Regions from separate parts of the Homo sapiens genome. Here region 2 is linked to region 1. The links come from fine-mapping of genetic effects on gene expression. Tissue or cell type: monocytes after R848. Region 1 holds a variant in brackets; the other region holds the start of a gene. All regions are shown on one strand. Distances are between the middles of the regions.

Region 1 (8,102 bases):
CCATGAGATCAGCAGAAAGGAGGCCCCGGGGACACATCTGACCCCAGAGCAGAACAGAGGCTCAACTTCCCCATTTATTTTTTATTTTATTTATTTTTATTTTTTTTTTATGTTTTTGAGACTGAGTCTCGCTGTGCTGCCCAGGCTGGAGTGCAGTGGAGCGATCTCGGCTCACTGCAACCTCTACCATCCAGGTTCAAGCAATGCTTGTGCCTCAGCCTCCCAAGTATCTGCCACACCCAGCTAATTTTTGTAGTTTTTTTTTTTTAGTAGAGACAGGGTTTCACCATGTTGGCCAGGCCGGTCTCGAACTGCTGACCTTGTGATCCTCCTTCCTTGGCTTCCCAAAGTGCTGGGATTACAGGCATGAGCCACAGCGCCCAGCCCAACTTCCTCATTTATAAAATGGGTATTTTTGGCATGGGGAGCCCTGGGAGGTGGGCCCAGCAAGGCTGGGAAGCATAAAAGGGCTTTGGGTGATGAAGGGCTGGCCCATCTCTCCCCTAGTATCAGCCCCAAAGATTGGCAGCTGCCCCTGGGTGCAGCCTGCAGTGAGCCCAGAGCTCTGCGAGGAGCAGAGTGAGTGCTCCATGGACGGCGGGTGTTAGGGAGAAAAGAAGTGCCGCTTCAGCCGCTGTGCCATGAAGTGTCTGGCCCCTGTCCTAGGTATGAGTTCCCTTTCTCCCTGAGCTTCCCCTGGCCAGCTTGGGCCTTCAGTGGGGCCTTGAAAGTGGGTGCAGTCCATGAGCAGGCCCTGGGGGCAGATAGGGCTCGGCACACCAACCCAGACTATGCCAGCTGCAGGCCCCCAGGCACTCAAGGAAGCCACTCAGGCTGGGAGTGAGTGTCAGTGAGTGAAAGTGGCCCAGGGAGGCAAATGACTGGCAGGCCCAGTGCTGCTCGACCTGTGTGCAAAGCCTGTGCCTCTCCCACTTCACTGCAGAGAGCAGCTTACCTCCCAAATATTGGGAGAGCTCTAGGTCAGGGGTTCCAAACATGGGTTCTGGGCTAACCGTCCAAGCCCACCTATGACCTGGACTCCCTTTCTGGCATATGAGGGTGGCCTCATCCACCTGTCTGCAGGCGAGGTGAGGGCTGGGGGAAAGCCAGTGGGGTGCAGGGCTCTGCTTGCTCCCCTGCACAACAGCAAAGGGGCCAGCAGCGCAGGTCCCCGGGCCTGTGGGCGTGAACACATTAGCACATGAACAATGGACAGCGGATGACCTCCCTCCTCCCCACCACCCCCCTGGCCGGGCTCTGTACTGCATCTGAGTTCCCCGTGCCCCCCTGCAGAGAACACCTCTCAGTGAGAGACCTTCCCCTGGGAGCCCCTGCTGCCAGGAGTGACCCACCCAAGTCTGCTCGACAGAAACCATCTCTCTTGGATCCAGAGAGTGCATGATGCCTTCTACGGCTGCTAATTTAAAAATCCACTCAGCTTCATGTGTTTGTCTTTCTGTGTATCTGTCCCGGGCTCCTGAGGGAGGAACGAAGCAAACGCAGGCCTCATCCCTGGGTGCTCCAGGCAGACAAGGCAGCTGGCCGGGAACAGGGAAACCCCGTGGCGATAAGCATGTCCAGGTGGGTGGGGGAGTCCAGCCAGGTGCACTCAACAGGCGGCTGACCTCTGGTGAGAATACACAGCCATGGTGGCATCTCTGGGCCAGGAAAGGCCTCTCCACTAGGTTCTGGAGACACTGGCCAGATCTCCCGGGGCTGACCCCCTTCAGAGGTGTTGCTAGCCCTGCTCATGGGGACAAGATCAGGAGCTGAGCCTGTGGGGGTCTGGTAGCTCAGAGGTTGCCTAGGCCTGGGCCAGTTTCGGTGGCATGGCAAGGGCAAAGGTGTGGTTACAGGAAGTGCAAAGGAAGTGAGAGGAAGGGGTGGGGTGAGTGTGGATGCTGCTCTAGGTCAGGGGTGTTTAGAATATTATGTCCCTGGAAGACAGTCACCACCCCACAGAGACACTGAGCTCTGTGTCCACACACGGCTGCCTCACACAACAGGACATGCAGCTCTGCTGGTCATTTCAGGGTCCACAGTGTTGGCCATCAGGCACCCAAGAAGATGGCTGTGTGGGAACTCACACCTGGCCAGATCCCTGCGGCCCCAGGGAACTGCACTTGACTTGTGCAGTGACACAGGCCTGTTGAGCGGCTGGGAGGATCGCTAATGGCCAGTGCCTGTCGGCACCAAGCTCCAGCCCCTCTGTCGCACACAGGATGCACACTTACTCTCACACAGAGGAAACAGTTCTGTCTCCATTCGTATAGCAGTTTCATCGTCCTAACCTGTACCTGTGTCTGCTCTTTGGTTTGAGCCTGATCCCTCTAGAGTTAAATTAAATCTCTTGTCCCTTGTTCACTTTGTATCTATTGTATAGAAGAGTCATGATTTTTCCCTTTTTTGAAAATTATCTTTTAGCAACAAAAAAGCTGAACACGGTATACAAGGCAACTTGAAAGAAGGGGTTTTTATTCTCCTCAACTCTAGGCTGCTTTTTCACATGTTTGAAAAAATTTGTCTAAAACGCCTCTAGTGGGATTTTCTTTCTCCAAACACTTTCTACACCCTGGCTGTGCTCCTGGCTTGGGGGTCGAGAGGAATCCAGTTAGCTCACCAGGGGCCAAGGGTCTCAGCAGAAAGAAGAAAATCAAATGATTGAGCTTAAGCAGCAAGAAGAAAGGAGCTGTACTCAAAAAAATCACCAGCCTCCCCGTGTTCTGTGGCTGCACTTGAGGAGTGGCTCGAATTGGATCAAGTCCAGATGAGAGCCTCGAAAACACGAAGCCACAGCCTTGGGAGAGTCCATGATAAAGCAGAGACATTTTGAATGGGGGTCCTCTCTGTGTGTGCTCCGGCAGGACATAGGAGGCAGGCTGGGCCCTGGTCAAGCCAGAGGGAGGGGTCCACTACCTCACCTGCCTAGGTTTCTGCAGGAGCCCAGGGGCCCCAGGCCCAGGCCTGACCTGAGGTCAGCCCCATTTGGCTCACTGACCCAGCACATAAGGTCAAGGAGACGACCCATACCATCAGGCTGGCTGAGATGAAGGTGGGACCTGGAGATATTGCTCAGCTTCCTCCATCCCTGCCTCCTCAGAGCTTGCAAGGGAGAACAACAGGGCCGGCCCAAGCAAGCCACACTCACAGCAAGCCTAGATTCTCCGGGAGCCCACACTCATGAGGAGCCCACATCCATGAGAGCCACGCTCACTGGTTATGTGACCTGGTAAGGTCACTTCCCTACGGCTTCAGTGCCCACAGAGACCTCCATCATCATGCTCTGTCAGTGAATGGAGGAGGAAGGCAGGACTGACCTTTAACCCATAAGTGCCAGGCCTTCCTAGGTGTTGCACACAGAGGGACCAGGCTGTCCTGGCCAAGCTGCTGCCCTTGAGGTGCACAGGGGCCTCCCAGAAGAAAGAGCCTGCTCACTGCTGATGTGTACAGGAAGAGAGGAAGGCCCCCAAAAAGAGTTCCCCAGAGCCATGTGCAGAAGGACAAGAAGGGTCCCCCTAAAACAGAGCACCCAGAGCTGTCTTGAAGGCAGGGCCCAACCAGTGAAGTGGGGAGTCTGGGGCACCAGGGGCCATCTCAGAAGACACTGGTGTCAGGGACCAGGGACCAGGAGTGCAAGGACTGTTTGAGATGCTAGGTCTTTGCATCATCTTCAGCTTTGCTGTCTCCATCATTGCCTCTCTGTGTTCACTCAATAACTCAATACATCTTTGAGTTCACATGACATGTCAGGGGCTTGGGAAATGGGATGAACCATCCCACACATGAAGGGGTTCAACTAGTGCCTGGATTTTGTTCATGAACAATCCTCCACTGAAAGGCAGCAGGATTCCTTGGAGAAATAGATGGGCAAAGAAGGCACAAGGGGAGTGCTGGCGTCCGCCTGACCAATGATGATCTGCTGGAGGGACACATGAGCCTGCCACACATGAGCGCCGTGAGGGTACTGACGAGGACAGAGTACAGCACGCTGAATTTCTAAAAACCCCAGAGTTGAGAGTGATACTAAGACATGGAAGAAATGTGGTGCAGGAAGGCTTACATGTGAAAAAAATTAAAAATAGGCCAGGCAC[G/A]GTGGCTCACACCTGTAATCCTAGCACTTTTGGGGGCTGAGGCAGCCCTCGAGCTCAGGAGTTTGAGACCAGTCTTGGCAACATGGCAAAACCCATCTCTATCAAAAATACAAAAATTAGCCAGGTGTGGTGGTGCATGCCTGTGGACCCAGCTACCTGGGGGGGCTGATGTGGGAGGATAGCTTGAGCCCAGGAGGTCAAGGCTGCAGTGAGCTGTGTTTGCACCACTGCACTCAGCCTGGGCTACCAAACAAGACCCTGTCTCAAAAACAAACAAACAAATAACAACAACAACAATCATAGAGATTAAGGAGACAAAGGTCAATTGGGGACATTCGGATATGGACCTGAATCAGATGGCCTTATTGCATCAATGTTAATTTCCCTAGTAGGATAATTACAGTGGGGTCACATGGACAATGTTTGCTGCTAAAGTGCTTAAGGGAGAAGTTTGTGATGTCTACAGCTCACTTTCTTTCTTTCTTTCTTTTTTTTTTTTTTGAGATGGAGTCTCCCTCTGTCACCCAGGCTGCAGCGCAGTGGCACGATCTTGGCTCACTGCAACCTCCGCCTCTTGGGTTCAAGCAATTCTCCTGCCTCAGCCTCCTGAGTAGCTGGGACTACAGGCATGCACCACCATGCCCAGCTAATTTTTTTTGTTTGTAATTTTAGTAGAGGCAGGGTTTCACCGTGTTAGCCAGGATGGTCTCGATCTTCTGACCTCGTGATCCTCCTGCCTCGGCCTCCCAAAGTGCTGGAATTACAGGCGTGAACCGCTGTGTCCGGCCAGCCTACAGCTCACTTTCAAAGGATTCAGCAAGCAAACAAACCAAGAAAACTTTTGAATTGTATATATACAGCACATACACACACGCATATGCATGCCTATATTCATATGCTTATAAACATACACAAATATAAACACTTACATTGCATGGTCTGAATGTTCATCCTTCCTCTTCCAAAATTCATATGTTGAAATCTTCACCACTAAGGTGAGGTGAAGGTATAACATTCGGAGGTGGGGCCTTTGGGGGATAATTAGATCATGAGAGTGGAGCCCTCACGAGTGGAAAGGGACCACAGAGAGCTCTCTCTCTGCTCTTGGCCATGTGAGAATACAACAAGAAGATGGTCACATGCACACCAGGAAGACAGCCCAGACAGCCTCTACCAGACACCACATCTACTGCCACCTTGATCTTGGACTTCCAGCCTCTAGGAATGTGAGAAATAAATTTCTGTCATTTAAGCCATGCAGTCTATAATATTCTGTCATAGCAGCCTGAGCAGACTGTGATATACATACACACACACACATACATACATGTACACACAAGACATACATATACCCACACATGTATATACATGTATGCACAACACACACATATACATGCATGCACACATACACACAAATACATACACACATATGTACAGTGAGAACAAGCGGGGGTGAGGCAGGGGTAGGGATAAAGAAGGAAGACGGAAGTATGGCCAAATTCTTGCTGAATCTAGATGACAGATTTATGGATAGTCACCGTACCATGCTCTTAGCTTTTCAAAAAATTTGCACATTCTCTAAATAAAAAGAGGGGAACCAGAAAGGGCCTGTGGGCTGGCCCTCCAGGCCAGGGAGTGTTTGGGGACCAGGATTGGTGGGAGAGGGGCAGGCCCTGAATTTGGTAAAGCACAAGGTGGGAGTGTAGCACAGAAGAGAACCTCTCATCAGAGGAATGACTTGGGTGGGCTGAGGGGGCGCCACAAGGAGGCCAGATCTATGTGAAAGGAGGACCAGCAGGTAACATGGTCACCTTGTGGCACCTGGCCCAGCAGCCTGAGACACAGGTATGGGAAAGGTGGGTCAACAGGTCCCGTGGAGGCCCTGTCAATGATGCACTGTGTTGGTGGGAAGCCAGCAGCCTGCTCTCCCAGGCCAGGACCCCTGCATACTGCTGCACCAGGCCTGCCCCTCCCCATCTCAAGGAGAAGCTACCAGGAGGTCCTGCAGGCTGGAGGCCAGCGGACATACCCTTTCCCCATCCCCGTCTGTCCCTGCCCACCAAGGCCCAGCACTCAGCCTCCCATGCTGGTCAGGTGCTGGGGAGAGGCAGGGCTGAAATGGAGCCGTACCACCTCCATGCACTGCTGCTCATGCTGGGACCCTGAGGCCAGCCTGGGCAGCTGGAACCACCCAACCTTGTCTAGCCTGCAGCTCAGAGTTAGGCTGCAGGAGACACATCCATCCCCTGATGCTGGAGGCTCCTCCCCTACAGAGAAGTTTCACCCTGCCCTGGCCCCTGTATTGACTATGTTTCCAGCTTCTGCAAACAATGCTTTAACATCTGCCTTGTATGTATATGCTGGACAGACTTGGTTCTGCACCCTGATGATGGGCCTGAATCACCTTGCCTTGGCCTTCTGCCTCCCTCATCAGCTCCTCACCTCTCAGGAAGAGTCCTCCTCCTGGGCAGGGTACACTTTTCAAACACAAACCAACCAATCCAATGCTCACACCCTCAAACACCTCCTCTATGGGGCTCTCACACTCTGGCCACTATGGACTTGCTCTAATCACTCCAGGGCCAGGTATCAGACAATGAGGGACAGCCCTTCTGCTCCAGGCCCTGAAGTTACTCAAACCACCCAATCCTAAACTGTCGCCCTGCCTTACCTGTTCTTTCCCACAGAAACCACAGTAAAGGCTCTTGCCCACCACTCCCTGCCCCATTCCTCTGCCTCAGGGCCAACCCCAGTGTTTTCCCATGTGGCCCCTGTGGTGTGGCATGTGCCCTTCTCTCCAGAACTGAGAGTAATAAACTAGCTTCTCAATGGCAATCATCTCCTGATCCATCAGTCTTCATGAACCTCAAATTTTTTATTAATACATGATATTTTAAAATAGTCCCAGCCGGGCACAGTGGTTCACGCCTGTAATCCCAACACTTTGGGAGGCCGCCAAGGCGGGTGGATCACCTGAGGTCAGGAGTTCAAGACCAGCCTGGCCAACATGGCGAAACCTTGTCTCCACTAAAAATACAAAAAATGAGCCGGACATGGTGGCACACACCTGTAATACCAGCTACTTGGGAGGCTGAGGCAGGAGAATCGCTTGAACCTGGGAGGCGGAGGTTGCAGTGGGCCAAGATCGCACCACTGCATTCCAGCCTGGACAACAGAGTGAGACTGTCTCAAAAAAAAAAAAAAAAAACCCTTTCATATTTTTCCATATAAAACACTGCTTTAAGTTTTAATGTTTTTTCCCCCAAGACAGCCCAGCCTGTACCCTACTTGGGTAGATTTTACAAGCTGGTAAAACAGCCCCCTTTAGAGGCTGAGCATCCATGCCAGAGAGATCCATGGGGCCACTCCACCATCTCCCACTGCATTCTCATGGCAGCTGCCACCGGAGCTCCCAGGACTCTGATAAGGTGGACCACCTTGGCCCCTTCCCAGCTCCATCACCCGTACCCCCAGAGGCCTTCTCACCTGCACATCTGTTAGCACAGGTACTCAATGTCAGTGGCCTCCAGAGCAGGAGCCCAGGTTGACTGAAAGCCAGGAACGGCTATGAGCTGGGCCCTACTGGTGCAGGACAGGGCTGGGTCCACTGGGCTGTGGCTGTCACGACCCACTCTGCACACTGTACCACACCTCTCACCACACTGCATGAGGAGGGTGCTGTGGCCTTCTTGGTGGATGAGAAGGAAGGATGGATGAGATGTTCTGTGGATTTCTGGAAGGGTTGGCAGAGGTCAGGACTGTTGGCCCTGCTGAGGGTTTCCTGCTGGGGGTGCAAAAGACCCACCACTCTGAGTCCAGCTGGGACAGAGCCCCGGGCAGGCACAGAAGCAGGGGGAGGCCTGGGGCTGGTGGCAGAAGACCTGGACACTCACTCTCCATGTGTCCTTAGGCAAGTCCTGCCCTCCCTGGGCCTCAGTTTGCCACATAGATAGCAGGGTAGAACAGGCTGTGTATGGCCAGAGCAGGGAGCCAGGCTGACCTTAGACTAGC
Region 2 (8,102 bases), 130 kb after region 1:
TTGCAGTGAGCCATGATAGCACCACTGTGCTCTAGCCTGGGAGACACAGTGAGACCCTGTCTCAAAAAAAAAAAATCTATCTTTTGTTACAAGGACTCTAGCTGAGAATTTAGAAGGGTAGCAAGAAAATTCATCTTTCCTCCCCTAAATATGCTACTGATAGAGGCGGGAGACAGCCAAATGCCATCCAGGTCATTATGCACAGGGGGCTTGCCTAAACATGCCTACAGTGAAAAATTCTATCCCTTAACACATGTGCAGTAAGGGAAATAAATCAGTGTGGAGTGGCTCAGATTAGAGGCCTACATGTGCACTGGGGAAATGGGGTGGAGCCACCAGGAATTCATGCTTTATGCAGGGGAGCCGGGCTTCTTCAGCTCCAGTATGGTGGCCTGATATTCAGTCTGTGGAGTAGGAGCCTGTTGGCAGGACCACCTCTTTGCTAAGGGCTTTCTTTTCACTTAATACATTCTGACCCTTCAATGTGTCCATGTGCCTAATTTTTCCTGATCGGGAGACAAGAGCCCAGATTTTAGCTGAACTAAGAAGAAAAATATCGTGCGTCACTAGTTGGCCTGGAAGAACAATGGAATTACTCATTTGAGATGTGGGTTTGAAGAAAGTTATTTTTAGTATTCTGATAAGCAGTTAAAATACTGCTGTCATGTTTCTCTCTTTGTGCCAGTCTCATGCAGTTTCCCAGCAAAATCACAATTAAACTGATAATGTGATTTTTATGTTTTGGCATCCTTTCAGATTTTGTTTTTTTTGTTTTGTTTTTGAGACGGGGTCTGGGTGTGTCACCCAAGCTGGAATGCATTGGCATAATCACAGCTCATTGCAGCCTCAACCTCTGGGGCTCAAGTGATCTTCCCACCACCTCAGCCTCCTGAGTAGCTGGGACTATCAGCGGACGCCACCATGACTGGCTAATTTTTAAACTTTTTGTAGAGACGGGTTTTGTGATGTTGCTCAAGCTGGTCTTGAACTCCTGGGCTAAAGCAATCCTCCTGTCTGAGCCTCCTGAAGTGCTGGGATTACAGGCCACGATGTCTGGCCTCTAATTACTTTGATAATAAGTAAGCATCTCCCCTTCTCTTTTTTTTCTGAGACAGAGTCTCACTCTATTGCCCAGGCTGGAGTGCAATGGCACAAACTTGGCTTTGCCTCCTGGGTTCAAGCAACCTCTGCCTCCCAGGTTCAAGCAATTCTCCTGCCTCAGCCTCCCAAGTAGCTGGGATCACAGGCGTGTGCTACCATGCCCGGCTAATTTTTTGTATTTTTAGTAGAGATGGCGTTTCACCATGTTGGCCAGCCTGCTCTTGAACTCCTAACCTGCCTTCCAAAGTATTGGGATTACAGGTGTGAGCCACCACGCCTGGCTCTTTGTTGTTTGTTTTTGAGCTGGAGTCTCGCTGTGTCACCCAGGCTGGAGTACAGTGGCGCCATCTCGGCTTACTGCAACCTCCACCTCCTGAGTTCAAGCGATTCCCCTGCCTCAGCCTCCTGAGTAGCTGGGACCGCAGGCATGCACTACCACACCCAGCTAATTTTTGTATTTTTAGTAGAGACGGGGTTTCACCATGTTGGCCACGCTGGTCTTGGAACTCCTGACCTCAGGTGATCCGCTCACCTCAGCCTCCCAAAGTGCTGGGAATACAGGTGTGAGCCACCGCGCCTGGCCGCATCCCCCACTTCTCTAGTGAATTTTTTGGGGTTATCACTGTGTTAAAAAGCTCTTCTCTTTGAGTCCCTTGGGAGATCCCACTTTCTTCAGTAACACACCTTCTCTGGCCCTTCGTAGCTATTTACTTTCCCAGTACTCTTTCATCATCTTGAAACCACCATTGCAAAATTATAACTGAGACAGTGACAGAGATCTGACCGAACCAACTCCATCTTGCTTCTAACTTCCAAGCTGTCCTTGTTCATTCCTGAGTGTAGGCTGAACTAACTTTGGGAGGAACTTAGTTTATAGTTTAAAAGAAAGACAATAATAGCCCTTTCCCAAAACAAACCCCCATCTTGCCTGGGGACCAGAATGCCTTTGTAGGAGTAACAAATTAGCCAAAAGATTAGAAATTATGATTTAGGAGTCATGCAGCTAGAGGCTACAGGATTCTGACCCTCCCCAAATTGCTCCCGGGAATAACATCACTGAAGTCTAAGATCAGTGCTTGAGATATTTTGCAGACCTCGCACTGGATGGATCAGCTGGCACCACCCAGATCGATAAACTGGCTCATCAGATCTTGTGGCCCCCACCCAGGAACTGACTCAAGCACAAGACAGCTTCAATTCCCTATGATTTCATCTCTGACCCGATCAATCAGCACTCCTGACTCACTGGATGCCACCCACCCTCCAAATTATCCTTAAAAACTGTGACCTCCAAATGCTTGGGGAGACTCATTTGAGTAATAAAAAAAGTCCCAGTTTCCCACACAGCTGGCTCTGCATGAATTATTCTTTCTCTATTGCAATTCACCTGTCTTGATAAATTGGTTCTGCCTAGGCAGCAGGCAAGGTGAACCTGTTGGGCCATTACAATCTCATAGCAGTGGCAGAATGGACAGACCAGTGAACCCTGTGCTAGGACAACCTGCACCAGGCCCTGGCTGTTGTAGGAGGTCCTTTTTTTTTTTTTTTTTTTTGAGATGGAGTTTCACTCTTGTTGTCCAGGCTAGAGTGCAATGGCGCGATCTCGGCTCACCGCAACCTCCGCCCCCTGGGTTCAAGCAATTCTCCTGCCTCAGCCTCCCAAGTAGCTGGGATTACAGGCAGGCACCACCACGCCCGGCTCATTTTGTATTTTTAGTAGAGACCGGGTTTCTCCATGTCAGTCAGGCTAGCCCCAAATTCCTGACCTCAGGTGATCCACCCGCCTCCCCGCCTCGGCCTCCCAAAGTGCTGGGATGACAGGCATAAGCCACCGCGCCCAGCCTGTTGTAGGAGGTCTTGAACAAACCACTTAACTTGTTTGGGTGGGGCTTAGTTTCCACGTTAGTAATCTGGAAGTAACAGTTCTGCCTTATCTGTCTGTTAGGGTTTTGACACTTAGTGAAGTATGGGATTTGTATACTGTAAAGTGATTGAATGTATTTACTAGGTGCAATACATAAAATACGAGTTTCAAGCACTGCTCTGCTTTTACTTATAGAACCACGTTCTCACTTTTCTAGCCTGATCATTCAAGACCCTTGAACACATCGTCCTTATCTCCCGCTCCTCATTGAGACCCTTCCAGAACACTACAAACTTGTAATACTTAGCTGTATCACCAGCAAACCATGTCCTTCCCAATTTCAGGACCTTTCAATGTGCTTTCCTCTGCCTGGGGGTGGGTGGGGGGTGGAGAGTAGTTTCCTCCCAACCCATGAAACCTCTCCACAAAGGTAGAAGAGACAGAAAACCATTACTGAATAAGTATTAAACCAGATTGTGATGCCGTACATCACATGCAACCTGCTAAAGGCAACACAAAGACAGAAACTCACTTTTTCTATGCAGCTAAGTAGAGATAGCCCATCACATTATGTAGGTTTTGCAATTTGGAGTCAGGTGCCAAGTTAAGCCTTTGTCCTCCTAAGAAGCTGGACTCTTGGCCCTTTCGTCCCTTAACAATTGCATTTTTTTCTTTCTTTGTTTTTGAGACAGAGTCTCGCTCTGTCTCCAGGCTGGAGTGCAGTGGTGCTATGTCGGCTCACTGCAACCTCCGCCTCCCGGGTTCAAGCGATTCTCCTGCCTCAGCCTCCCGAGTAGCTGGTACTACAGGCACGCTTCACCATGCCCAGCTAATTTTTGTATTTTTAGTAGGGACAGAGTTTCACCATGTTGGCCAGGATGGTCTCGATCTCTTGATCTTGTGATCCGCCCGCCTCAGCCTCCCAAAGTGCTGGGATTGCAGGCGTGAGCCACCGCACCCAGCCAACAATTACACTTCAAGGAGATGGCTCCCAAGAAACATTCCTGAGTTGAACCTGGCCATATAAGAAAAAGACTTGAGTACATTTGGAAAGGAGAGAGGCTGAAATTTTGAAAGAAAAAGGGAGGGGGATGGTTTCTCGTCCCTTCTTTTCCTCAGGGAAAATTAAACCCTATGTATAATTTGTATTTGCCCTTCCACCTGCATCACCTTTCCCACATGCTCCCACAGGCAGGCTCCTGTTCATTCCCAAGGCTCCGTGTCCACATCGTGCTTGGATTCCGCCCGGCCCCGCCTGTGCGGCCGCACCAGGAAGGCACCACCCATTAGGGGCTCAGCGCGTCCCTCCAGGCCACGCCGTCAGGCCTCCGTCCTTTTAGCTGTAGGGGCAGATTACGTAACTCCAGCCTTCTGGTCACTAAAGGAGGGTAACAAAGGGCGGTCGAGAGACTCCACTGAGTTGACACGCAGACGCAGCCTCAGGACCCTAAACTCTACGCCCCAGCACACCCTACCAAGCGAGCGCCCGCGGCCGCGTGACGTCATCTACCCCAAACGCTGTGGCCCCGGCCACGCACGGCTTCGGGGCGGGACTACGCGGTGACGTCGAGGTGCGCGGCGCAGCGCGCGGCGTCAGTCTTGGCTGGCAGACCTGTACTCCGTACTCCGTACTTCGTAGTCGCAGCGGCGCGGTCTTCGGCAGTCTAGTCATCCACCGCCATCCTGGGCCCCACGTGTTGCCTGACCATTCCTGAGCCCAGGTAGGGGTCCTGGGGGATTGGGTTCAGTGGCGGGCGGCGTGGGAGGCTGGGCCGCAGTGAGTGGGGGCACCAGTGATTCTTGGAGACCAAGCCTTCACTACACGTGCTACTTCCTCTCAAGAGGCGGTTGAGCGCGTTCGGAACATTTTACCCGGAGGAGACTCGGGGATTACTTGATGAGTAACCTCGTGCTTCTCTTTCAGCCGAGAAGTGGGGCTTCTGCATGACCTGGGTGGACCCCAGTAGGTGGGATGGGACGTGTGGTCAGGAGGGACCTCACCGGAAGGCATGGGGTGGCGTGTAGACCTGCCGCAAGAGAGGCTGTAGAGTGGGCCAGGCGTTGCAAGGAGCTAGAGCTGGATAATGGTTCAGAGGCACAAGCTGAAGCTAACTGCGTTTGGAGCTAACTGCATTTGTTCCCTTCTAGGTGGGAGCCGTGGCTGAGGTGACGGTCTCAAAGTGGAAGAGCTTACTGTCACAGCAACTCCTTTGCAAGATGCCCCGGTAAATCACGTTGCAGAGACCCCAACTCTGCCTTCCTGGAACTAGGCCTGCGTTTTCTCTGAACCATTATTTCATGGGGAAAATGAAATCTACTTCATGTGCCTGGTCTACTTACTCCTTCAGAAGTGATTTCTGAGCCGTAAGATACATGAGAAAAAAATGAAGGGGAAAAGGCAGTATTTATATTAACTACATGATGATAAGGATGTTTCTGGTCACAGTGAAAAGCCATGCTAGAATTGTAGTGTCATAGAATAATGTGGAAGTTTAGTTCGTGTTGTCTGATCTATTTAATAATTTAATAAGGTTATCTCTTCCAAGACACCTTCCCTTCTTCCTCAGCCAGAAAGGATCTTTCCCTGAGAGTCATTAGTAGCTCTGGGCTCCTGGAACCAAGCTCAGGTGCCTAATTGAACTCTGGTCTCTTCCCACAGCCCCCAGCAGGGACTGGTGCTTAGTGAGAGTGGACTGCCAGATTCCTTGAGTGTGGGGGATTTGGGTGAATGAGGGTAGCAAGCCTCCAGCGTGCTTGGGTCTGCGGTGACCCTATGCATTCCTTCAGTGCTTGCTAGAACAGTTTTGAAACGGTTTGAGGCCTTGCCCTGCTCCATCCAGAGCAAGGTTATAGAAATTTCAGACAATGACTTCCTCCCTCCTGGATCTAGTGTCCTGGGCCTTGTATAGATCCGTGCCATCTAATGTGGTAGCCACTTGGCACACATGATTAAATTAAATTTGGAGTTTTATTTCATTTTCACACTAGCCACATTTCAGATGATCAGTAGCCACAGGTGGCCAGTGGCTACCATATTGGACCGCACAGATTAGAGGGCATTTCTGTCGCTGTGGAAGTTGTTTTGGACAATGCTGGTGTGAAAGGTGAAGGGAATCCTGAGTGTTTGCTGTGCTCCAGGCTCAGTACAAATTTTATTTTATTATACACTTAAAGCAAAAGTCTTATAAAAGTTGAGGATGAAGCCAAGAGTGGTGGTAAGGGTAGGAGTTGAAACAGTGAAGAGGAATAACAGGGAAGAGTCCTGCCCTGAGAGACTCATGGAATAGGATATTTACAAGGCAAAGCAAAGAGAACCAAAGTCTCAGTTCTGCAGAGGAGCTGAGTGCCCCAGGAGCTAGTGGAGGGTGAGGTCAATGTGTGCTCATCTTAAAGGAAAAACTCATGGAAGAGGAAGGTGCTAATGTTGAACACCTATTTTGCGCCAGACCTCTTAATTGTTTTAAATCTTTGAGGTATCATCATGAGGTCGTTTTTAAGTTCAGTACAGATGAGGGGCCCAAGGTCAGAATTATGTGTCCAGGGTTGCCCAGCCACAAACCAGCAGATCAGGGTTTGATGCCAGGCCTCTCTAACCCTGCATCCTGAGTGGAATATAGAAGCCGGTGGGAAGTTTGGATGGGAAGGAGATGGATGCCTTCAAGTTCTTGTCTTGGTGTTAGGTGTGTTAAAGGACTGGCTGGGATGAGAAGAGTGTTGCTGGCTTGAGCATAGCACGAGCAGCACAGCTCCTGTGTTCCTCTGGGTGGTGGGGTCACCTCTCTTAAAGGTAGAGGCTTTCAGCTGATTCTGTCTTTTCAGGCCAGGAATAGTTGCTGAACACCCCAGGCCTGCTGAGGTCCCTCCTTGAGTCTCATGTTCAAGCAGTCTTGTGAGTAAAGCACTGGCTACCCCTTTTCACTTACTATCTTTTCAAGCATGTTCTACCACCTTGGAAGGTAAGAGGTTAGTACCTTCTTCCAGAGCAGAGGGCAGGCATTCTTGCTGTGCGTTGTGAAAGGGTAGAGTCCTGCGCTCCTTTCTTGTAGTAGTCCAATGGCTCATGCAGGTGCCTCTGACTCCCCTATGGGAACTGGGGCTTGGGAGGGTGGTGGAAAATGCTGATGCTCTGGCTATTGCTATTGTTTTGAATAATCAGTGGTCCCTTGTCCCTAATCGAGGAATTTTGTATTTTCTACCAGTGTCCATGAAACTGGGAGGCGACCGTGTTAGCTGCCAGTTCCTGACAGCCACCTCTCACCAGTGGCTTCACTCTGTGTCCCTGACCCAGCACATGGCACAAGAGTGCCTGCCATCCGTCAGTGTTTCTACAGCAGCAATCCCAAGATGCTGGAGCTAGAGGGGACCTGACCTGAGAGAAGATACCTTCAGTGGCTGCCAGGCTGTTCCTTGGAACCTGTGCAGGGGTAAGTGTGCAGGAAGGTCTGACCTGGCAAGTCACTTCACTCCTGTTTTATTTAGAGTCACCTGGCTAATGAAAAGTATTTTGACCTTCCCGTATGGTAAGTCAGGTGATTGAATCCCAGAAAGGTTCATTGTCTTCAAGCTCACAATACTATTTTGGGACAAACAGTTGTCTAGTGTTTGGACTCATGAACCCTGATTCTTGAGGGTGGTATTTTACTGCTTTTGTGATTTGGTTTCAACATATATAGTCTTTTCTCCGGAGTTACCTTAGGTCAGTGGCCAGTGTTTCAGCCCCTGGAAAGGGCATGGGCTGCCACTGAGGTTGGTCACAGGCCTCTCAGCTCATGGTGGGAGTGGGTTCAGGAGTTGGTAAGTAGGGTTCAGTTCTGTTGTTGCCACCGATGGCAACAGGGGTTTGTAATAATCCCTAGTTGTGTCAATTATGTCACTTAATTTTCACAACAGGTCTCTGAAGTGTTTCTCATCTCATTTTTACAGATGAGGCCTGCCTGTGTTAATACACCTAGTGAGGAGTGGAGCTGAATTTGAATGCAAGCCTTGGCACCTTAATTGAGCAAGTTTGAAACCTCGCTTGTTGCCCTTCTGGAAGGAGTCAGGAATTTCCAGTTCTGGGCCTGGGCTGTGGGTCTGGCAGACAGACCTCTGGCCCTAGGTTTGGGTGCCAGGTTCTCTGCTTCCAGAATGAGAAGCT

Alleles and levels. Positions count from the first base shown, and alleles are read on the strand shown. Sizes are in standard deviations (SD) of each study's normalised expression.
As copies of G replace A in region 1, the expression in monocytes after R848 of the gene that starts at base 4,515 in region 2 goes down (moderate effect, 0.69 SD a copy in Quach 2016).

What was found. PIP is the estimated chance that this variant, and not a neighbour inherited with it, causes the effect.
Region 2: it holds the start of SNHG15, and the variant in region 1 is fine-mapped to the expression of SNHG15 in monocytes after R848 (Quach 2016, PIP 0.95).

What each region holds. Positions count from the first base shown.
Region 1 is chr7:45,117,243-45,125,344 of GRCh38, reverse strand. No RefSeq gene overlaps it. Among named protein-coding and RNA genes, the nearest start is that of TBRG4, 9.6 kb to the right of the region's middle. RefSeq lists an enhancer at 667-1,492 and a silencer at 6,268-6,367. The variant G/A (reference allele first, on the strand shown) is at 4,092.
Region 2 is chr7:44,983,109-44,991,210 of GRCh38, reverse strand. SNHG15 (small nucleolar RNA host gene 15) reads left to right here and starts at 4,515. Exons shown (of 3, transcript NR_152597.1): 1 at 4,515-4,686; 2 at 7,165-7,389; 3 at 7,889-8,102. It overlaps SNORA9 (small nucleolar RNA, H/ACA box 9), which reads left to right and starts at 5,701; the gene lies at 5,701-5,833. RefSeq lists enhancers at 1-270, 3,922-4,669, 4,705-4,824, 4,670-5,416 and a silencer at 5,943-6,123.